Homo sapiens: one gene and its partners. The protein of the gene in region 7 purifies or fractionates together with the protein of the main gene of each other region. This does not show direct contact. Each region holds a gene or a part of one and is shown on either strand. Other genes may lie near its edges. The genes, in order: HS2ST1, TNFRSF10B, SACM1L, CDS1, SCAMP1, ALG11 and CSPG5.

Region 1 (3,500 bases), on a different chromosome or scaffold from region 7:
TGCAACCCAGGTATGTATGATTCCAAATCAAGTGCTCCTTTAATTATGTCCGGCTGCTTAAGACTTTATATTGACATTACGCTGAGATTTAGGTATTTGAATAGAGTTTTAAAATTGTAATATCAGTGTTTAATTGCATTTATTGCTAAGAATGAATATCATTCAGAGAAAATTGAATTTCTGATACAAAGGAATTGGTTTAATGTAACGTCTGCCCCTTGTTTAGATTCATGTAATGAACATAATTATGTTACCCAATGAAACAACTGAATTAGATAGCTTATTTTTACTATAGGAAAGAAAAATCTAGCTGTTTTCCATACGTGCAAAATCACAATGTTAAAAAAGCATTTTTATTTTGGCATAAAAAACCTATTAAACATTTTGTCCTTAAAAGTAGTTATTATCATTTTCATTGTAGAAGATTCCAAAGGATAGTATTGTCTGATAGTGGCTTTAATATACCTTGATTTGAGAGTACAGTATTTTGATGGTGAGACTTCTAATAGAGCAATAGATGTATTCAAAACTGAGGTGTACTCATTGACTACTTGGGAAATTCACTAATTAGGAATTCCTAAAAAAAAAAATTCAGTAATACAGCTTTTTATTTTTATTTTTTAAAAAACAAATATGGCATTGTAGTCCACATATTACAATGCGGCTTGCTTTTTTTGCCTTGAATGTTATACACATCTTTCCAGGTCAGTACATATAGATGTGACTTACTCATTCTATTAATAATAGCTGTATAATATTCCAAAGTATGCATGTATCATAAATTATTAAGCCATTATTCTAGTAACGGACATTCAGTTTGTCCCCCATCTGTCGTGTGTGTGCGTGTGTATATATACATATATATATAATTTTTTTGAGTGTTTCTTTTCTTTCTTGGTATTATAAACAATTATAGGAAACATCCTTATGTGTCCGTTTAACTCATGTTGATGTCATTTTGTGCTAGGATGAATTCTGTATGTGAGATTGCTGGGACAAAGAATATACATATTTTATAATTTAACAGATTTAAAAATCTACTTTTCAACATTTTTTTGTTTTTCAAAAGATGTAGTAATCTACACTGCCAGCACACATTCATTAGCACTAGAAGATAATCAGCTTTTAATTTTTGCCAGTGTGAAGCTGTGAAATGATATATTCAATTAATTTACCTTCTAATTTCTAGGTAGGTTGAACATCTTTACATGTTTATTGCCCTTTTATTTGTTACTTTTTTCTATTTTTCTATTGGGTGGTTTACTTTTTTTTTTAAATATTAGAATTAGTAATCCTTTATCTATCCTATGTCTTTTTTAAATTTTTTTTATTTTTATTTATTTATTTATTTATTTATTTTTTTGAGATGAGCCTTGCTGTCACCCAGGCTGGAGTGCAGTGGCACGATTTCGGCTCACTCCTGCCTCAGCCTCCCAAGTAGCGGGGATTGCAGGTACGTGCCACCACGCCCAGGTAATTTTTGTATTTTTAGTAGAGACAGGGTTTCACCATGTTGGCCAGGCTGGTCTTGAACTCCTGACCTCAAGTGATCTGCCCCCCTCTGCCTTCCAAAATGCTGGGATTACAGGCATGAGCCACTGCACCCGGCCTCTTATTTGTTTTTGTCCAAGTTTGCCATTTGTTTCTTGACTTTATGGTGTGTTTTGCTCATATAGAAGTTTTAAAATACACACAGTTAAATCTATCAATTTAGGGAAGTCGTTTTCATATTTTGCTTAGGAAGACTTACCCAGAGCCAGGATTGTGTACATTTTCTGTATTTTATTATAGTATTTTATAGTTTATTACATTTGGCTCTTTAAACCATTTGTATGTTTACAGAGATTTATCATGATTTTCTCAGTAAATCATTTTTTCCAACTGTATGTTAACATTCCTTCTTTTAATCACATACTAAGTTTTCATATGTTCTTGGATCAATTTTGGATGCTATTTTCCATTAATCAGAGATTCTTTAAACCTCGGGGACCCATAAATAGGCTTCAAGGTATCAGTGAATTCCCTGAAATTATATACATAACTTTCATCAGATTTGCAAAGGAGTATGTGATTCCTTTAATGGCAAGGATCACAGATTTATAGTAGATGTTTCATATTTAGTGGACTTTTTTTTGTTTTTAGTAACATAACGTGCAGATTGTGAGTTAAATTTAGGAGATAAGCTTATTACCTGTGAAAAAGAGAAGTTTTTCAACTTCAAATGAAGTTAATACTTCATTGTATTAAAATGTAGACTTAATTTTCTAGTGAGAAATGGAAAAGGACAGGGAATCCAAATGAAAACTATTTAACTGTGACTCGTTACTATAAAATGTCAGAATTTGTGGCTGGTAAAAAGTAGTTCTTCCCGAATTTCAAGAGCGCACTTGTTGCTAATATTGACTGGTCGAACAGTGCAGTGAAATATTTTCTCACATAAGTGATAGAACTATGTGCTTGGTAACTTTATTTTCTATAGGGTTTTAGCATTGTAAATAATATTTGTTGACTGTATTCTTACATCTCTATATGGATTTATGAGCACATTAGGAATAATCTTTTACATGGGGAAAATAATTGAGAATGGATTATGTAATCATCCATTGGTGAGAATTAATGTTAGTCATTATGTTCTTAAAACTCTACTAGACTAAACAACTAATTCCAGGGCCAAGGTTGAGACTGCTTTTTGGAATTTGGTAGTTTTTACAAGTAAGTTCCTGAAACCATGCAGCAATACCTGTAAGATGTTCCAGAGAATGCTAGATTTCCTCACTTCTGAAATCATTTGGAAAACCTCATAGTAGCTACTGTTTTGAGGACTTTGGGTTAATAGGAATACAGTTATTCTAGAATTGGTAATTGGTGCCTCACTTAGTCTTGAATAGGATGTCTAGTGCCATGGAGTAGTCACCTGAAATAGTTGATCTCAATTAAGATAATTCCAGGATGTCTGTCCACCACTCTGGTAGGCCTTCTAATAGCTTTTTGGCACTTAGAGAAATTGAAATAATAATGAATGTTCAAAGATTGCTCTCCAGAAGACCATTTTTGAAGGATGTACTTATAGATGAACTTCATAATCATGGTTCACTATAGCCTAGTTATTTTTAAGATCTACCCACCTACCAGTACCTGTACTTACGTATTCTGCCTTTCTGCCTGTTAACAATAGATGGTAACTGTCAGTGCTCCTGTTCGGTCATTTGTGCACCTGATTCTGTTGCCTCACTTACCTAAAGACATGGTTCCCGAAGCTTTCCCTCATTCTCCTGTCACAATGTATTCTTGAAAATTGCTAAGAGAGTGGATTTTAAGTGTTTTCACCATACCAAAAAAAAAAGTATGTGAGGTAATGCATGTTGTCTTAATTAGCTTGATTTAGCCATCCATGATATATACATGTTTTAAAACATGTTGTACATGATAAATATATACAGTTTTGTCAATTACAAATAAAAAAAAACTATCTTGGTAAATGTTCCAGGTGAACGTGAAAA
Region 2 (3,500 bases), on a different chromosome or scaffold from region 7:
GCATCCAACATTCTACTGTTGGTTTTTATGAATTTGACTACATTAGGTACCTCAAGTGGAATCCTATTTCATTTGTCCTTTTATGAATGGCATTTTACTGAGCATGTCTTTAATGTTCATCCATTGTGTAGCATGTGCCAGTATTTCCTTCCTTTTCAAGGCTGAGTAATACTCCATTGTATGAATATACCACATTATCTATTGATCTGTCCAACTTGAGTTTCTTCCACTTTTTGGCTATTGTGAATAATACTGCTATAAACGTGGGTGTACAAATATCTGTTTGAAACCATGCTTTCAATTCTTTTGGACGTATACCTAGAAGTGGGAATGATGGATCATCTGCTAATCCTGTTTTTACTTTTGAGGAACTATCATACTGTTTTCCATAGTGGCTGCACCATTTTACATTCCCATTAACAGGGCACGAGGGTTCCAACTTCTCTACAAATTTGCTAATGCTTATTGTGTGTGTGTGTTGTTTTTGTTTTTTGAGACAGAGTCTCGTTCTGTCGCCCAGGCTGGAGTGCAGTGGTGCCATCTCAGCTCACTGCAAGCTCCGCCTCCTGGGTTCACGCCATTCTCCTGCCTCATCCTCCCAAGTAGCTGGGACTACAGGCGCCTGCCACCACGCCGGGCTAATTTTTTTGTATTTTTTTTTTAGTGGAGACGGGGTCTCACCATGTTAGCCAGGATGGTCTCAATCTCCTGACCTCGTGATCCGCCTGCCTTGGCCTCCCAAAGTGTGGGGATTACAGGCATGAGCCACCGCACCCGGCCTGTGTGTGTTTTTTATAATAGTCATCCTGATGGGTATAGGATGGTATCTCTGTCGTTTTGACCAGCAGTTCCCTAATGATTAGTGATTAAAGTATCTTTTCATATACTTATTGACCATTTGTATATTTGCTTTGGAGAAATGTTTATAAAAATCAGTTGCCCATTTTTAACTGGGTTGTTTTTGTTTTGTTAGATCGTAGGAATTCTTTATATATTTTAGATATTAAGCCCTTATCAGATATATAACTTAAAATATTTTCTCTCATTCTGTGGGTTTTGCCTTTTTATCCAGTTAATAGTATCTTTTGATTCACAAGAGTTACTGATTTTCAAGAAGTCCAAAATGTTTATTTTTTCTTTTGTTGCCTATGTCCATGGTGTCACATCCAAGAAATTATTGCCAAATCCAATGTCACAGAATTTTTATCCTATATTTTCTTTCAAGAGTTCTATAGCTTTAGCACTTACATTTACATCTTTTATTTGTTTTTAGCTATTTTTTAAATACAATGTTAGGCTAAGGTTCACTTCATTCTTTTGAATGTGGATATCCGGTTCTCCTAGCCCCCTTCATTGAAAAGACGGCCCTTTCCTCCATTCAACAGTCTTGGCATCCTTGTGAAAAATAATTTGGCCATATATGTGAGTGTTTATTTCTGGCTCCTCTATTCTATTCCACTGATCGATTTATCTGCTTTTATGTCAGTACCATCCTGTTTTGATTACTGCAGCTTTGTAGGAAGTTTTGAAAATCAGGAAGTGTGAATCCTACTACATTTTTATTCATTTTCAAGATTGTTTTGGATATTCTGGTCCCTAGAAATTCCATATGAATTTTAGGATACATTTTTTCATTTCTGCAAAAATGTCCTTGGGATTTTGATAGAGATTACATTGAATGTATAGATCACTTTAGGAAATGTTGACATAATTAGTCTTATAATTCATAATCATGGCATATCTTTCCATTTATTTTTGTATTCTTTAATTACTTTCAGTAATGTTTTATAGTTTTCATTGTACTAGTCTTCCACCTCCTTGGTGAGTTTACTCCTATTTTATTATTTTTGATACTATTGTAAATGGATTTTTTCCTAATTTCTTTTTTTGAATTGTTCATTGGTAGTGTATAGAAATGCAATTGACTTTTCCAGTTGATTTTGTATTCCGCTTCTTTGATGAATTCATTTTAGTACTACTAAATAAAAATTAAAAACACAGTTTAGATATACCCCACGGCAATTACCCATAACCATGTAGCCAAAACTTAAGACATCCTGATATCCCTGAAACATTAGCTATAATCATAAAAAATCCCACAAAATATAAGTTTTACACCTTCATCATGACATAATATGGTTCAGTGAAGTTAAATCAAGCAGCTATAGAAAAATCAGCTTAAACAGCTCTGATTGCCTTTAAAAAGAATATAAATTTATAAGTCAATCATGAAATTGTCAAAATACATCCTCCTTTATAGCCTGTACTATACCTGCTGTAAGGCAAGTTTCTTACCACTTGGTTTGAAATCTCCCAGATTGCAATCTGTACTGTCTTTTACTGAACAACAATAAATTTCAAAATTTTAAAAATTTAATATTATTTTATTTTTGGCAGTTTAATTTTTTGTGAAATCTTTTGGATTTTTTACCAGTAAGATCATATCATCTGAAAACACAGATTATTTTACTTTTTCCTTTACAGTCCAGATGCTCTTATTTCTTTTTCTTGCCTGTTTTGGCTAGAACTTCCAGTACTATGCTGAGTGGCAAAGGTGGGTAGATATCCTTATGTTGTTCTTAATCTTAAAGGAAAAGCTTTCCGTCTTTCAACACTGAGTATGATGTTAGCTGTGGGGTTTTCTTACATGGCTTTTATGATGTTGTGGAAGTTTTCTTCTATTCTTAGTTTGCTGGGTGTTTTCATCATGAAAGGGCTTTGAATTTTATCAGAGGCTTTCCCTGTATCAACTCAGATGATCATGTGTCTTTTTCCCCCTTCATTCTATTAATGCAATGTATTACATTGTTCAGTTTTCATTTGTTCAAACATTCTTGCATTCCGGAAATAAATCCAACTTGGTCATGGTGTATAATCCATCTAAGGTACTGTTGAATTCTCTCTGATAGTATTTTGTTGAAGATTTTTGCATCAGTTAGGGATACTGGGATATAGCTTTATTTTCTTGTAATATCTTTATCTGCTTGGGTATCAGAGCAATGCTGGCCTTACAGAAAGAGTCAAGAAAGGTTCCCTTCTCTTCAAGTTTTTGAAAGAGTTTGAGAAGTAGTGGTATTAGCTCTTCATTAAAAGCTTGTTAGAATTCACTAGTGAATTCTGTCAGTTTAATTAATAGTATTGAAGAATCAATGTTGGTTTTGTGGATTTTCTCTATGGTTTTTCTTTTTTCTTTTTCTTTCTTTCTTTGAGACAGAGTCTCACTCTGTTGCCCAGGCTGGAGTGCAGTGATGTGATCTTGGCTCACTGCAACCTACATCTCCGGGGCTCAAGTGATCCTCCCACCTCAGCCTCCCGAGTAACTGGGATCACAGGTGTGCTCCCCCGGGCCAGGCTGCTTTTTATATTTTTTGTAGAGACAGGGTTTTGCCATATCCAGGCTGGTCTCAAACTCCTGGCTTCAAGCAATCCTCCTGTCTTGGCCTCGCAAAGTGCTGGGATTATAGGCGTGAGCCATCACATCCGGCCTCTACTGTTTTTCT
Region 3 (2,257 bases), 1.8 Mb from region 7:
TCTGGACCAGTCTGGGAGCATCGACAAAATCTTTGCCATTGTAAAGAATGATAAAAAATGTTCCAATGCTTGCAACTCCCCAGAAGAGCACATAGGCCAGTGTTTCTGTCCAAGTGTCACCTGTTGATATTAAGAAACAAAAAGCTAAATAAGTCGTTTGTTGATATCAGACCCAGTTTTCAGCTGTTTAGCACATTTTGGCAACATTAAAGTTTACTAGCACATTCACAGGAAAAATATAAGAACCTCTTAATTAAGGTTTAAACCAGTGGTTCTCAAACCCTGGCTAGTACCAGAATCTTCTGCAGGGCTTGATAAAGCATCAACTGTTGGGCCCCAGGAATCTGCATTCTAGCAAGTTCCTAGTACCCAGGTGATGCTGATGCTACCGATCAAGAGGCTACACTTTGAGAACCACTGGACTAAATGATTTCATATTATATTATACAAATAATAATGATCACTTTTAGTATATTTTAATAATACAAATAACTATTAAGTTTAATTCATAGTTCTATAACAGATATGAGCTATTGTCAAAACACCTGCACAAAAAATTAATAGAATATTCATAAATACCAAACATAAGTTATACATAACTTTTCTGAAGTTATGTATATTTTGTAGAGTATTTTTTGCATATACACAAATATATAAAACAAAAGTCAATAACATTTTCTTTAGAGATGGGGTCTTGCTGTGTTGCCCAGGCTAGAGTGCAGTGGCTATTCACAAGCACCATTCCACTACTGATCAGCATGAAAGTTTTGTCCTGCTGTTTCCAACCTGTACTAGTTCACCATTCCTTAGGCAACCTGGTGATCTCCTGCTCAAAGAGGTCACCATATTGATGCTGAACTTAGTGCGGACATCCGATCAGCATAACACACTACAGACCAGAACTCCTGGGCTCAAGTGATCCTCCCACTTCAGCCTCCTGAGTAGCTGGGACTATAGGCACACACCACAGCACCCAGCCAATAACCTATTTTAATGACATATTTAACCCAACTCTGCTGATATGCATTTTCCAAAGTCCGAAGTTCATAAAGGTTAGCAGCAAGCCGGTGGGCAAAGATCTACTTTGTTTTACTCCTTGAATAGCTGAACCTAGAGAATAGCTTCTCTCTCTGCAACACTACTGGCCTCATTTGCAGAAGGAGAAATACATACAGGGAATGACAGCCAGTGAGCACACCACGGAAGAAACTAGCATCCAGACTCCTTCCTAACAAGCCCTCAGAGATCATGCTACATTTGTTTTCTATTCTCTTTGAAAACCACAGCAGGAGCTAGAAATCAGATATTACCATAACCAAACATCACAAAGTTTATCATAAGAATAAACTGACATGAGAAGTTACCATCCACAGCATCCAATCTCTTTTTACTCAAAATATACTCGAATTTGCATAATTGCTCATTTTCATGGCTCTGAAGTTTAAAATTCTTCTTGGACAAAAGAAGAAGGGCAGTTCCTTGTTAGCCACTCTGCTGGACACTCCCTAAAGGAATCATCCGTTTCATTCAAGCAGAGTTCTTGGTCTTGACTTTCCTGCCTCTCCAGAGGTTCTTTAAGTAAATGTGGGTATAGTCACAACAACAAAATGAACTAATTTAACAGTAGAGTGGCTCCCCAAAAATGGCATGCGCTGGGCAGTGTTTTCAGGAAAGAAGGCAGAGGACCCAGAGAGGAAATGAAAGCAGGGCTGGCCGCTGAGGAACCGGCACATGCTGCCTCTTCCTTCCTGCCCTAAAACCTGCAGTCATGTCCCAGGCAATACCTGTGCTTCAACCTGTTTTTGTATTGTAAGGTAAGAATGCTTTTTACATTTTTAAATGGTTATAAACACAAAAACAAAGAATGTACAGCCATCCATAAAGACAAAAATATTTACTACCTGGCTCTTTACAGAAAAATTTTGCTAACTATAATAATAATAAGATGGCTCTTTCTTTCCCCCTACTCAACATTTCAGCATTTAGTTAAAACTATGTCACGACTGTCTACAGGGCTGAGCACTGAGGGGAATACAGAGATGAACAGGTAACTGAGCCTCCCTATCAAAAAGGTGACAGAATTAGTGGTGGTGGTGGAGTGAGTCCTTAATTCAGCAAACATTTACTGAGGGCTCACTATATCCTGGACAAAGGAGATAAAACAATGAGTAAGACACAGTCTTTACCTTCAAAAAGTTGCTGATCCAGTGAAAAAAACAAACAAGTATGCAAATCATTACCATCCAAAAAGAAATAC
Region 4 (3,500 bases), on a different chromosome or scaffold from region 7:
TATACTAAAATAACTGTCCCATGACTCTTATGCTAATATAAAACCTGATAATAGTTGGTGTAAGTTCTTGGAATAAGAATGAGACGTATTCATTCCAAGTACACACAGTCAGTATTGACCTGCTATTGGCCAAAAATAGAATCAGTACAACAAAACATGGACATTTTAGCACATATAATTTTCACATATTCCTAATATGCTATATACACACAGACTTCCTTCTGATATGGCAAAATACTCCAGAGCCCCAGATACTGTATTTGCTCAAGTATTGACATATCCTCTCTTTTTTCACAATCTATGTCCATTTCCAAGAAGAAAGGAACATGCTGCACTTCAAAGAAGAGATATTGTTTGTGTTGGATTCAGGCTATTGCTGCCCAGTCAATGGACCATTCATGGAAAGAAATCTGGAAAAAAATCTAGAAGTTAGTGGTGTTGGGGCAGGAGGAAAAGATTCAGGAGCAAAAAGTGAAAGTTGTTGCTCAGGGGAGATAAAGACTGTGATGTGTGGGAGGATTTGGTCATCAGGTCATTAATGAGGGACAGAAACCAAATATCAGAATAAAGTCTCTGAAGTATTAAAATGGGTTATGGGTTAACCTATAGGAGCTCTTCATAGACTTCTTGTCCTGATATTCATAAAGCCCCAAACCAAAACAGTTGGCAGAAATGGTTTCTTGACAAATCTGATAACAATTCTGCCACAGAGAAGGGACAGACACACCTTCTCCTAGGGTAATTCACTATCACTGCCATGAAGTAGGAGCAGACTCAAATTCAAAAGTGCCTGCTGATTATTGTAAAGATAGCTTATCAAATTAAATTGATGCATATCATATCGATTTAGGGGTTAACTGTTCAATTATCTAAGTATATTATACAATTAATCCAGCCTGATAAATTCACTAGAAGGCTGTGTTCAAAATCAGTTGCTAATATTCTTCCACAGCTATAACAGCCTTTTTGAAGGCTTCTGATATGGTTTGGATCTGTGTCTCCACCCAAATGTCACGTCCACTTGTAATCCTCAGTGTCGGAGGTGGGGCCTGGTGGGAAGTGACTGGGTCAGGGAGGGGGTTTCTAATGGTTAAGCACCATCCCCCTATTGCTGTCCCATGAGTTCTCATGATATCTGGTTGTTGAAAAGTCTGTGGCACCTCCTCACTCTCCCTCTTCCTCCTGCTCTGACCATATAAGATGTGCCTGCTTCCCCTTCCGCCAAGATCATAAGTTTCCTGAGGCCTCCCCAGCCATGCTTCCTGTACAGCTTGCAGAACCATAAGCCAATTAAAGCTCTGGCATTTCTTTATAGCAGTGTGAGAATGAACTAATACAGCTTCCCAAGCCGAAAACTTCTCAGTCTGGGTAGAACTCTTGAATACGTAAATCATGTATTCAAGCTTTAGAAACTCTGGAGCAGCTTTAGAAACGTTTTAAAAATATACAGCTTGCTTACCAGTATCCTTATACAGCTCAGCCCAACACTCTCTGTGTGCTGATGCTTTCAGCAGGTGCTCTCTGTGAGCTCCTCCCCAAGAGGGGAAGAGTTTACAGAGGTTTTTGGAAGAACAGGCAGTCCACAAATTCCTCTGGTAATACTAAACTACCCTCATACCACTCTGAACAAACAGAAGGCTTTATATCTGAACAATTGTCTCAGTCCTTCCAAAACTGCATTCATATAACAATATCAAAACAGCCAGGTAATAATATGTCTGTGAGAACATTATTAAAAACTTTGCCCAATAATGTGAAATGTGTGAATCTTATCTGAAACTCCAACATGAAAAGCTCTTTTAGGCCGGGTGTGGTGGCTCACGCCTGTAATCCCAGCACTTTCAGAGGCCGAGGTAGGTAGATCATTCGAGGTCAGGAGTTCTAGACCAGCCTGGCCAACATGGTGAAACCCTGTCTCTACTAAAAATACTAAAATTAACCAGGCATGGTGGCAGCCGCCTGTAATCCCAGATACTTGGGAGGCTGAGGCAGGAGAATCACTTGAACCCAGGAGGCGGAGGTTGCAGTGAACCCAGATTGCGCCACTGCACTACAGACTGGGTGACAGGGCGAGACTTTGTCTCCAAAAACGAATAAAAACTAAACAAAAATAAAGAAGAGCTCTTTTAGAAGAAATCAGTTCTAGAAAATGATTTGATTTCCATGAAGAATTAGTTTATTTCTTCTCCCAAATGAGAACTATGTAATTTAGTTCATTTCCTTCTTTACCATTGCCCATAAATAGAACCAATTCTATAGCAAAACAACATGGTCTACTCATGTGTATTTTCCTTTCCCTTTCATTATTACTTGTATTTTATTAGTATTTTATTGTAGGGCCCCAAAATCTTCTTTTGGTATGAGTTTGGATATGAAAAGTCACACAAATGGATATGAGGATGTGAAGGTGTATTATATAATCTCTTCTTTGAGAAAGTTTGGTAAAGGAGGGGACAGGTAAGGCGACAGGTTGAAGGGAGAGGAGAGTCAAGGAAAAGGCTTGTGTATAGGCTTGCTGGAAAGGAGGATAAAGAAGAACTGCACCAATGGCCGAGAGAAAAAACCACAGAGCCCAGGGGCGGTGGCTCACGCCTTTAATCCCAGTACTTTGGGAGGCTGAAATGGGCAGACTGCTTGAGCCTAGGAGTTTGGGACAAGCCTGAACAACATGGCAAGACTCTGTCTCTACCAAAAATACAAAAATTAGCCGGGTGTGGTGGCATGCACCTGAAGCCCCAGCTACTCGGGAGGCTGAGGTGGGAAGATTGCTAGAGCCTGGGAGGTGGAAGCTGCAGTGAGCCATGGTAGCACCACTGTACTCCAGCCTGGGTGGCAAAGCAAGACCCCATCTTCAAAAAAAAAAAGGAAAGAAAAGAAACCACATAAAGATAAAATGAAGATGAAAAGGGAGGGAGGGAGGGAGGGAGGGAAGGAGGGAAGGAAGGAAGGAAGGAAGGAAGGAAGGAAGGAAGGAAGGAAGGAAGGAAGGAAGGAAGGAAGGCAGGCAGGCAGGCAGGCAGGCAGGCAGGCAGGCAGGCAGGCAGGCAGGCAGACTGATGGAGTCATGCCCTTCCTGAGGAGCCAACAGAAGAGCTGATGAAGAACCCAGATGGAAGTACTGAGAAATATGGTTTGCTGCTTCTGCACCATGCAGCTAAGGAAAATCAAAGCACCTCAAAAATAAAAAATGCACAACAGCACAGTTGTTGGAAATGTTCTCCAGTGGCTAATCTTTAAGGTTACATAGTGGCTTGCTTATAAAATTTTTCCATTACCTTAATTAATGGAGTTCTCCCAAAAAAAAATCCAAAAAGGTAAGCAGTTATGTCATTGCAGATAACACTTGATATTGGAACAAGGAACCTGTTTTTAAAAAAAAAAAAAAAAGTCAGCAGAAAAAAGTTCACCTGAGTAAGTGGCAGATATTCGGAAAGGTTATGATTCATAATGAACCATCAGAATAACCCTTTGGATTGCACTGCAGCCTACCCAGAACATAA
Region 5 (3,500 bases), on a different chromosome or scaffold from region 7:
TAATAGACAAAAAACAGAAACAACTTAGGTGTCCAGCAATGGATAAAGAAACATTACTAATTCTGAAAAGCACCCAAAGCCAAATGCCAAGGAGAAGGGGATTACTGGATTGCTCTCTGGGTATAGATCTGCAAGCCTTCTGCACAGAAAGGAGAACAGGGTTTTCCACACCAGTCTACACATATGAAGTCAAACGCTGCAGGACATTACAGACTGCCTCAGTAGGAACAACTCAGAGACTTGTTACAAGGTTAAATCTAACCAAACTCCATGTCACCTTTTATATCCCACACCCACTGAAAGTTGGAAAATTCTCCCTTGTGATTTAAAAACATCTTACAATATTTGCAAGTATATTACTCCACTACACCACCAAAAACTGTAGGTCTAAATACAGGCTTAACTCTATCACCCTTTTGGCAAGAAAATGTTACTTTACACTTACGGTTTAGCAATTCTGGTTGAAACAGACAGACTCACTCAGGTCACCCCAAATGCTGGGAGCAGGAGAATATTTTAAAGATATATACAGAAAGAAGAACGCCAGGTTTCACAGAGATTGAAATTCTTCATGACATGGCACATCCCTTCTAGTTAAAAAACACCTCTAATGAAGGACAGGAATTCTTGAAAATGGCCTTCAAAAGCCTAGTGAGATAACTGCTATTCCACTGCTTTGGACAAGTACCTTTGTTAAGATCAGTCAGCTGAGGCCAGGGTGGCAAAAGTCACACCCTAGAGGACATGATCACAAATGTGTAAGCTACCATGAGGGCTGCTCCCTCAGCAGAAGCTGAGGCTCAGAGCATAGCTGGTCTCTGAACATAAAGCATCCTCTCTAGCTGAACTGATCATACTTAATTCCAATATCCAATATGGTCGATATATTAGAACAGAGAAAATGCAGGAATACCTAGTTTCACTGTACTTCACAGATATTGCCTTTTTTAAAAAAATAAATTGAAGGTTTGTGGCAACCCTGCATCAAGCAAGTCTCGCAGCACCATTTTCCCAACAGCATGTGCTCACTTCACATCTCTAGCGTCACACTACGGTAGTATTCGCAATATTGCAAACTTTTTCATTATCATTATGTCTGCTATGGTGATCTGTGATCAGTGATACTTGATGTTACTACTGTAATTGTCTTGGGGTGCCACAAACCATGCCCATAACACTGCAAACTTACTTGATAAATGTTATGTGTCCTGGCCGGGCACGATGACTCACGCTTGTAATCCCAGCACTTTGGGAGGCCAAGGCAGGCAGATCACCTGAGGTCAGGAGTTGGAGACCAGCCTGGCCAACATGGTGAAACCCCGTCTCTACTAAAAATACAAAAAGTAACCAGGTGTGGCGGTGCACGCCTATAGTCCCAGCTACTCGGGAGGCTAAGGCAGGAAAATCGCTTGAACCTGCGTGGTGGAGGTTGCAGTGAGCCGAGATCACGCCACTGCACTCCAGCCTTGGAGACAGAGAGAGACCCTGTCTCAAAAAAAAAAAAAAAATTGTGTGTCCTGACTATTCCACCAACCAGTTGTTCCCATTCTCTGTCCCTCTCCTTGGGTCTCCCTATTCCCTGAGACATTACAATATTGAAATTAGGCATCTCTGTAGGTTATCCAACTTCTGCTTGAATTTCTGCAAGTGCTGGAGAATGCCCTACCAAAAGAGCATTGTCAGGCCATGGTAGCAGATTTTTAAAAGTCTGTTTGGACAAAATTTACCTTTACCTTCAAGTAAACTTTGCCAGTTAACCTTAGATTCTTTTTCTAAAGCAACAAATAACAAGTTTATTCACTTACCTAAGAACACTTTAAGTATCTGATGGGAGCTCTCCTATTTCCCTTTAGCCCTCTGTAGACTAAATCCACTGAGTAATTGAAACTTAAATTGTTCTTCCTAGAACTTGATTCCAGTCCCATGACCATTCTGACTGTCCTCTTTGGGCATATCCTAGTATTTTCAAACCACTCTTTAAATATGCACTTGCAATTGAGAAGAATACCCAGCTATTAGACCAGAACAGAATACTATAGGATTATTAATTTTAAGGAACTGATCACTAATTTCACTAAGCCAATATATATTTTTCAGCAACTATATCACACTGGTGGTTCATATTAAGGAAATAACCAATAAATTATTTGGATCTGCATTTATCACTATTAAATATTAATCATAGTCCAAAAAAAACTTTTGGTAATATCAGCACAAGAACAGTTTACTTTCGAAATTTTCATAATCACCATCATCTCATATGACTGTAAAGCTACAGGGCCAAAATAAAACTGTGTTCAAATCTTAGTTTTGTCACGTGGCACAGCAGCCTCCTATGGCAGCAGCCTTCCCCTGGCCATATGAGATGCTCAACCTAGACAAAAGTTTTCTAAACATCTGAAGAATACCGACCATGGCAACGGACACTTCACCCTAAATGAAGATTGTCTCAAAAAGAATGACAAATGTGGTTTTTAAGGCATGGTTTGAACTCTGGTAAGATTAAAAAGAAACTGTTAAGAGAGTTGTGACAGCCTGGACTAAAGAAACAGTTCAAAATTAATAGAAACTTCTGGGCTCCCAATTTTCAATGGGCAAGAAGCAGGCCAAAAATGCTACTCAGCTGCCAAAAGGGCTCATTCTTATAGAAAAAAATAAATAAAGGACCTCTCAGAGGGTGGAGCCAAAAGCAGAAGAAAATAACAGGTGAAGGAACCAATACGAGGTAGCAGAACTGGGCCCTAATCAAGAAACATTCATTGTCCCCAATGTAGGGGACCCTAACAACACGTGCCTGGCTAGATTTCAGAACTGCTATGCATCAGCAGGTGCTACACGCCTCCCACTCTTTCCCTATTTGAATGGGAGTGTCTAGTGAAGTTATCCTACGACTACCTCGCCATTTTATACTAGGTGTATCTTCAGATCATAGGTCTGTCTCCAGTCAAGAAGTGGAGCCTATTGCTTGCCACTCCTTTTAAAATCTAGGCTGAACTTGTGCCTTGTTTTGACCAACAGAATACAGCAGAAGTAGCATATGATTCAAGAAGCCTTGTAGATTCAGCTCTTGCCCTCTGGGAGCACTGCTGCTACTATGCACAAAGCCCATTTATTACTAGTAGAGAGGCTACATGAAAGACAGCTAATTGCTGTGCCCACTGACATCTCCAGGTAACCAGCAGGCACTTGAGTAAGGATATCTGAAACCATAAACCAGGTGACTGAAGCCACTTTAGTGACTCCAGAAAAGAACATTAAAAAAAAGAAAAAACCTGCCCAGCTAAGTCTAGCGCAATTAACAGAATCGTGAGCAAATAATTGTTATTTTAAGCCATTATATTTTGGGATTGTTACATAGCAACAGATAAGTGAGACAGTGGTAAATAAGATAATGGTGCATCTTACAAAGGATGGCATCTTAAGTTGATGAAATATAACAGCAGCTCAATATGTGCTTTTTAAAAACATTAACATGAGGAAAAATGAGCAGGAATTCATGC
Region 6 (3,500 bases), on a different chromosome or scaffold from region 7:
TCCATTTGTTTTTTCTTTCTTTTTTTAAGACAGGGTCTCGCTCTGTCTGTCGCCCAGGCGGGAGTACAGTGGCGTGATCTTGGCTTATTGTAGCCTCCACCTCTCGGGTTCAAGTGATTTTCGTGCCTCAGCCTCCTGAGAAGCTGGGATTACAGATGTGTGCCACCATGCCCAGCTAATTTTTGTATTTTTTAAGTAGAGAAGGGGTTTTGCCATGTTAACCAGGCTGGTCTCAAACTCCTGGCCTCAAGTGATCTGCCAGACTTGGCCTCCTGAAGTGCTGGGATTACAGGTGTGAGCCACTGTGCCCGGACGGGCCACAAATTCTTTGATACTTTTCTCACTGAGAGGTGGCATCTAAGTCCCCTCCCCTGGAATAACACCTGGCTCTGTGACTATTTTGACCAACAGAATATGGCAAAAGTGACATTGTGCCAGTTTCCCAACATAGACTCTAAGGGACTGGCAGCTCCTACTTCCTGTCTCCTGGAATGCTCATGCTAGGAGAAGACAGCTGTCATGTACGGAGTCCAACCAGCCCGAGATTGCTATGTTGTATGCAAGCACAACCAAGTCACATGAAGAAGCTCCTCAGTGAGAGAGATGCCCGACAGCCCCCAGCAGGTCCAGTTATCCCAGCCCAAGAACCAGAATGTGAGTGAAAAAGGCTTCAGATGCCTCCAGCCCCAGCTGCCATCTAATTGCAACAGTATGATGGAGACCAAACATGGCAGCCCCTAAACCATGTCACAGAACAGTAACCCCAAAACTGGTTTACTATAGCACTTAGAATAAAATCTAAACTAATTTCCCTGCTCACTCAAGTCCTGTGTGATCTGGAACCTGCCTCCCTCTGTCACCTCCCTTCCCATGCTCTCCTTTGCCCTCCAGGGTGCAGCCAAACTGGCATTCTTTTTTTTTAACACGCCAAGCTCCAACCAGCCTTAGGGGACTTGCAGTGGTTGTTCTCTCTACTCTGAATTCTCTTTTCTCATTTTCACTGTCTTTTCATAAGGCAGGCAGTTTAGCATGTGGTTCAGAACATGGGCTCTAGTGCCCCAGTTTTCTTCTTTGTCAAATGAGGATAATGGTAACAACTGCAAAAGGCTGTTCTGAGGATCAAGTGAGCTAACACATGTAAAGCACTTCAAACAATACCTAACATACAATCATCACGCAGTGAATGCAGCTGTTTTTGTCATTCAGATTTTGATTGTTATCAGATATTTCCCTGATCACTCTATCTAAAGTATCAAGTCACTCCTATATTACCCTATTTTAACTTTTTATATAGCACGTCTCACTATTTGATATTTTTCTTCTTTGCTTATTATCTTGTCTCTCTCAACTAAAATCAAACGTCCAGGAGAGAAGGACTTGATCGATCTTGTTCTCTTAATCTCAACCCCCAGAACAGTGCCTGACACATAGCAGGTCCCCAATAAATACTGCTAGGTCGAATGAAAAGTGCACTGTAGTATGTGTTGAGTTAGGAAAGGCTTGTAGAAATTAACTGGGGAGAAAAAGGTTATTTCAGAAGAAAAGAACACTATATAGAAAGGGAAGGACTCGAGAGAGAGCATGATGTGTTCAGGGAGCTGCTCCTTGTTCTGCATGTCAGAGTAAAGTACCTGTGAAGGAATGGGGAGGGATGAGAAACGCAATGTGGCCAGAGCAAGATGAAAAAGTATCTTCCAAGTCATATTAATGATTTGGTTTTTTTCTCCTTGTAGATGGGTTAGGAGTAATAGAGGCTGCTGGGGACTATGTGTACAGATATCATGAAACTTTACCACCGCCATCAAGAGGTAGATAATCTGGTTAGAGAAGAAAAAAGTATTATCAACGAGAGTAGGAAAAGCATCACGGAGTTGGGAATTATGAGAATTCTTTGTATTTAGGCAGTTACAGAAGATGGCAGAGCAAATACAGGGGTAGGGCCTGGAAGCTAGGATGGGCCAGGATTACAGAAAAGTATAGCTGAGGTAATTCTGTGTGAAGGCCTTGGCACTGAATGAAGGGTGTGTACCAGGAAGTAGGGTAACCATGAAGAGTAACAGTTTTCCTCATATGATAAAATAATGGAACCTACTATGCTTTTTCCTTTCTAAAAGAGAATCATAAATATTTTGGGGGTATGGGGGGTGGTGATGACGAAGCCTCAAATATTAAAAGATGTATAACACCATATTCCTTCTAACATGGTAAGTTGAGACTATCCAGCTGGTAATGATATAAAAATTTGAGTCAAATAGATACTTTCATAAAGATTATTCCTGTGTGCCACAACTGCCTGAAAGTATTCAGGCTTAAAGTGCTCTGACATACTTGGTATATTTCTGTCAATTACTTAATCTCTTCTGTATATGCTCTCCCAAGGGGACCAGTTATTCCCATTAATTTATGCCATAAAAGGGCAGATGTTTTCCCCATCCACTGTCCATTTCTTTCTTTCTTTTTTGTTTTCCCTTGAGACGGGTTCTCACTCTGTCACCCAGGCTGGAGTGCAGTCAGTGCACAATCATGGCTCACTGTAGCTTTGACTTCCCAGGCTCAGTCAATCTTTCCACCTCAGCCTCTGGAGAAGCTGGTGCGCATCACCATGCCCAGATAATTTTTTGTAGAGACAGGGTTTCGCCATGGTGCCCAGGCTGGTCTCAAACTCTTGGGCTCAAGTGATTCACCTGCCACGGCTTCACAAAGTACTGGGATTACTGGTGTGAGCCACCATGCCTGGGTTTGTCTATTTCTTTATCATAGTAACTAAAGTCAAATAAGATCATATAAGGTATGTGGGCACATGAAAGAAATATTTTCTTATTGAAGAACAGTTTAAAAAGGAATTCATTTTTTACTTTAGGTACTTTAGAAAGATGAGGCCGGGCACGGTGGCTCACACCTGTAATACCAACACTTTGGAAGGCCGAGGTGGGCGGATCACAAGGTCAGCAGATCGAGACCATCCTGGCTAACATGGTGAAACCCTGTCTCTACTAAAAATACAAAAAATTAGCCGGACGTGGTGGCGGGCACCTGTAGTCCCAGCTACTCGGGAGGCCGAGGCAGGAGAATGGCATGAACCTGGGAGGCGGAGCTTGCAGTGAGCCGACATCGTGCCACTGCACTCCAGCCTGGGTGACAGAGTAAGACTCTGTCTCAAAAAAAAAAAAAAAAAAAAAAAGATGAATTTCTGGATAATAATTTTTAAGAAATGGAACAATATAGCAAATTAGCTAAGAAAGATGGATACCTACTTTTTCTGCAGGGCTCTTAAAGCACACCATAAAACTCTTTCTCCTCCTCCACCAGCATTGCAGTATGGATGAAAAAATGCAATCACCATTTGATTTTTCCCATTTTTGCTAGTTGACACTAATTTTTTCTTTCTCTGTAGCAGCAGTCTGATTCCCCAAAGGACAATGACCAAACACACACATAAAGTTCCACATACAATGAGCCCAGGGAAGAATAATGAATAAAAAAACCTGAAATAAGAGGAC
Region 7 (3,500 bases):
GGTAAGTTACTCAGTCTGCCCACCTGCCTGATAGACCCTTCTTCCCTGGACTGTGACAGCCAGCGGCCAGTGCGAGATTTCATTCATAATTCTGCGTGGAGGAACTCCATCTCCTTCACATCTGTCACCCAAAATCAGCTCCTCCTCGGTGAACACTGAGGAGAAAGGGTTTATTTAGCACCACACTGCATTGCTTTTTGAAAGCTAGTCAAGCCTGTGTCCAATCAGAAGTGCAAGGAACTTAAGAAAATCCTCTTTACCTCTCCTGAGTAGAATATGTGGGGAGAACTAGGGTTAACTTCCTCTACTGTGGATTTTAAGGGCCATACGGGATGTAGAATCTTATTTCAGCTCTTCTCTTGGCAAAGCAGTGACTGTTGTGTGCATGTGAGAATCAACATGTGTTTGCCTTTAAGCCCATGCCTTGAACACTCGGATGTGACCTTATACGCTATGAGAAAATTACTCCTATTACTAAGCAAAGTTAGAAAACCTTTTGGAAGTGTCACAGGAGTCACAAAAGGGAGATTGGAGTTCAGCTTCCTTGGGACCCCAGAGACAATTTATGCAGAACTGCCCCCACTTCCCTTTCAACCTGTTGCCCCATTAATCCCCCTCCCCTTGACCTGAGACTCCCTCTAGAGAATGTGACTGAAGGACTTTCCCTGGGTCCTGGGAAAAGGACAAAACACCATCTGTTGCTCCTTTGCTGGGTAGACTCATGCAATGTACAGATGCCAGCAGCTCTCTGCAGCCTTTCAGCTAACCGCCGCGGGGCTGGTACGGCCTCTCCATTGTGCCTGTGCACTGAGGCGGGCTGCATCTACACACGTGATCACTCCAGAAAGACACAGTCCTGGACCCCTGGCTCCTCACGCCTACACCAAGGGGGTGGGTGAGCAGGGGTATCCAGGGGGCAGGAGATGGGACTGCTTCAATCACAGCAGCTGCTGATGAGGATGGGGGAGAGAAAGGAACAACAGCCAGGGCAGTGGAGAAGCAAGAGCTGAGGCCAGGTGCAGGACCCTATTCTAGGGCCTCTTCCTCTAGCCAGCCCTGTGTTTTTCACAGAGCATGGCCCTCTTGTTTCTCCACATGCCTTCTTTCTTTCCCAAGCCTGGTTACTGCTTTGATGGTGTGACATGTGCCTGGTGCACTGCAGATACTGCCATAATTTATTTATTCTAAAATATACCTTTTTTCCCCACATATTAACATCTCTGAAATTGGATTGTGTCTTACAATCACTGCCATCTTTTTTTTTTTTTTTAATTTAATTGAGACAGGGTCTCACTATGTTACCCAGGGTGGTCTTGAACTCCTGGGCTCAAGTGATCCTTCCACCTCAGCCTCCCAAATAACTGTGACTACAGGAATGCACCACTGTGCCCAGCCACTGGCATCTTATGATCACTGTTGGCCATATGGTAGTTATGATGTAGTTGTAATTCCCTGGCATGCACAAATGGGTTCCTAGCTGTTCATATTGTTGTCAGTCCCTTATCTAAAGTCTAAATGAACTACTTCAAGTATATAAGAAAAGCTCAGCTGGGCACGGTAACTCATGCCTCTAATCCCAGCACTTTGGGAGGCCGAGGCAGGTGGATCACGATGGGTGGATCACGAGGTCAGGAGTTCAAGACCAGCCTGGCCAAGATGGTGAAACCCCGTCTCTACTAAAAATACAAAAAATAGCTGGGCATGGTGGCAGCCACCTGTAATCCCAGCTACTCGGGAGGCTGAGCCAGATAATGCTTGAACCCAGTAGGTGGAGGTTGCGGTGAGCCGAGATTGTGCCACTACACTCCAGCCTGGCCAACAGAGCAAGACTCTGTCTCAAAAAAAAAAAAAGCTCTAGGTGATAAGAAAGTATTGGATGATGGTTTAAGTGGTGGAAGTGTTTTTATTTTTTCTTAATGGTACATCAAATAATGGTGCACCTTATTACAATCCATGGCATTTGGCTGGATGCTGTGACTCATGCCTGTAATCCCAAGACTTTGGGAGGCCAAAGCAGGAATACCACCTGAGCCCAAGGGTTCGAGTCCAGCCTGAGCAACATAGCAAGACCTCATCTTTACAAAAAAAAAAAAAAATTGTTTTAAGATAATCTGGAAGAGGGAAGGGAGAGCATTAGGACAAATAGCTAATGCACGTGGGGCTTAAAACCTAGATGACGGGTTGATAGGTGCAGCCAACTACCATGACACACATATACCTATATAACACACTGACATATTCTGCACTTATATCCCAGAACTTAAAGTAAAATAAAAAAAAAAAGATAATCCATGGCATTTGATGAAATACAGTATTTGACTGGGCGCAGTGGCTCACACCTGTAATCCTAACACTTTGGGAAGGCTGAGGCAAGCAGATTGCTTGAGCTCAGGGGTTCAAGATCAGCCTGGGCAACATGGTCAAACCCCATCTCTACAAAAAATACAAAAATTACCTGGGCATGGTGGCATGCACCTGTAGTCCCAGCTACTTGGGAGGCCGAGGTGGAAAGATCACTTGAGTCCAGGAGGTCAAGGCTGCAGTGAGCTGTGATTGTGCCACTGCACTCAAGCCTGGGCAACAGAGTGAGACCCTGTCTCAAAAAAAAAAAAAAAGAAAAGAATAGAAAAGCCTTTAAAAACCGATAACCAGCACCAGGTACAATTCTGTACTTATCAATAAAATTTAAAATAATTTTTTTAATAAAGAAAGAAATACAGTATTTGTTTTTTGTAGGGATTTTTTGTAATTTTTTTTTTTTTGAGATGGAGTCTCGCTCTGTCAGCCAGGCTGGAGTGCAGTGGCACGATCTTGGCTCCCTGCAACCTCCGCCTCCTGGGTTCAAACAATTCTCCTGCCTCAGCCTCCCAGGTAGCTGGGATTACAGGCGCCTGCCACCACGCCCAGCTAATTTTTGTATTTTTAGTAGAGACGGGGTTTCACCATGTTGGCCAAGCTAATCTGAAACTCCTGACCTCGAGTGATCTGCCCACCATAGCCTCCCAAAGTGCTAGGATTACAGGCGCGAGCCACCACGCCCAGCCGAAATACAGTATTTGATCCAGAAGCTGAGACATTGTCATGTTTTGCCGTGATTATTTCACTTACATGTTTCCTTCACTCTTCTCTCCTAACCAGCAAATTCCGGACCCCATCTGAGCTCCACAATGATAACTTCTCCCTCTCCACCATTGCCGAGGGCTCTCACCCAAATGTAAGGAAACTTTGCAACACTCCCCGTACCTCCTCCCCCCATGCCCGTGCCTTGGCTCACTATGATAACGTTATCTGTCAGGTAACTTGTTTTCTTCACATCTCTCCTCTTATGCATGCTTTGGCCCCTGGCCCATGTCTGATGTCTATTTCAGAATATGAAATCCCCAGAGAGCTCTGGAGGTCAGCCTAGGGCAACTGAGTTGGGCAGCAAAGGTGGGAATAAGCACTTGATGGTGTATCACTTATTTGACAAGCAGAATTTTCGATACAAAAGGTCTTTTTCT

The links.
Region 1: the proteins of CSPG5 (region 7) and HS2ST1 purify together in Homo sapiens (affinity purification with mass spectrometry; one large-scale study listed by BioGRID and IntAct). This does not show direct contact.
Region 2: the proteins of CSPG5 (region 7) and TNFRSF10B purify together in Homo sapiens (affinity purification with mass spectrometry; one large-scale study listed by BioGRID and IntAct). This does not show direct contact.
Region 3: the proteins of CSPG5 (region 7) and SACM1L purify together in Homo sapiens (affinity purification with mass spectrometry; one large-scale study listed by BioGRID and IntAct). This does not show direct contact.
Region 4: the proteins of CSPG5 (region 7) and CDS1 purify together in Homo sapiens (affinity purification with mass spectrometry; one large-scale study listed by BioGRID and IntAct). This does not show direct contact.
Region 5: the proteins of CSPG5 (region 7) and SCAMP1 purify together in Homo sapiens (affinity purification with mass spectrometry; one large-scale study listed by BioGRID and IntAct). This does not show direct contact.
Region 6: the proteins of CSPG5 (region 7) and ALG11 purify together in Homo sapiens (affinity purification with mass spectrometry; one large-scale study listed by BioGRID and IntAct). This does not show direct contact.

The regions. Positions count from the first base shown.
Region 1 is NC_000001.11:86,917,635-86,921,134, forward strand, and holds part of HS2ST1 (heparan sulfate 2-O-sulfotransferase 1), read left to right. Parts: intron 1-3,500. UniProt on the Homo sapiens protein: Catalyzes the transfer of a sulfo group from 3'-phospho-5'-adenylyl sulfate (PAPS) to the 2-OH position of iduronic acid (IdoA) or glucuronic acid (GlcA) within the heparan sulfate (HS) chain and participates in HS biosynthesis.
Region 2 is NC_000008.11:23,059,032-23,062,531, forward strand, and holds part of TNFRSF10B (tumor necrosis factor receptor superfamily member 10B isoform 1 precursor), read right to left. Parts: intron 1-3,500. UniProt on the Homo sapiens protein: Receptor for the cytotoxic ligand TNFSF10/TRAIL. The adapter molecule FADD recruits caspase-8 to the activated receptor.
Region 3 is NC_000003.12:45,741,396-45,743,652, reverse strand, and holds part of SACM1L (phosphatidylinositol-3-phosphatase SAC1), read right to left. Parts: intron 121-2,257; coding exon 1-120.
Region 4 is NC_000004.12:84,635,127-84,638,626, reverse strand, and holds part of CDS1 (phosphatidate cytidylyltransferase 1), read right to left. Parts: intron 3,364-3,500; coding exon 3,276-3,363; intron 1-3,275. UniProt on the Homo sapiens protein: Catalyzes the conversion of phosphatidic acid (PA) to CDP-diacylglycerol (CDP-DAG), an essential intermediate in the synthesis of phosphatidylglycerol, cardiolipin and phosphatidylinositol.
Region 5 is NC_000005.10:78,367,117-78,370,616, reverse strand, and holds part of SCAMP1 (secretory carrier-associated membrane protein 1), read right to left. Parts: intron 1-3,500. UniProt on the Homo sapiens protein: Functions in post-Golgi recycling pathways. Acts as a recycling carrier to the cell surface.
Region 6 is NC_000013.11:52,018,898-52,022,397, reverse strand, and holds part of ALG11 (GDP-Man:Man(3)GlcNAc(2)-PP-Dol alpha-1,2-mannosyltransferase), read right to left. Parts: intron 3,486-3,500; coding exon 3,255-3,485; intron 1-3,254. UniProt on the Homo sapiens protein: GDP-Man:Man(3)GlcNAc(2)-PP-Dol alpha-1,2-mannosyltransferase that operates in the biosynthetic pathway of dolichol-linked oligosaccharides, the glycan precursors employed in protein asparagine (N)-glycosylation.
Region 7 is NC_000003.12:47,568,866-47,572,365, reverse strand, and holds part of CSPG5 (chondroitin sulfate proteoglycan 5 isoform 1 precursor), read left to right. Parts: intron 1-3,138; coding exon 3,139-3,214; coding exon of another isoform or gene 3,215-3,295; intron 3,296-3,500. UniProt on the Homo sapiens protein: May function as a growth and differentiation factor involved in neuritogenesis. May induce ERBB3 activation.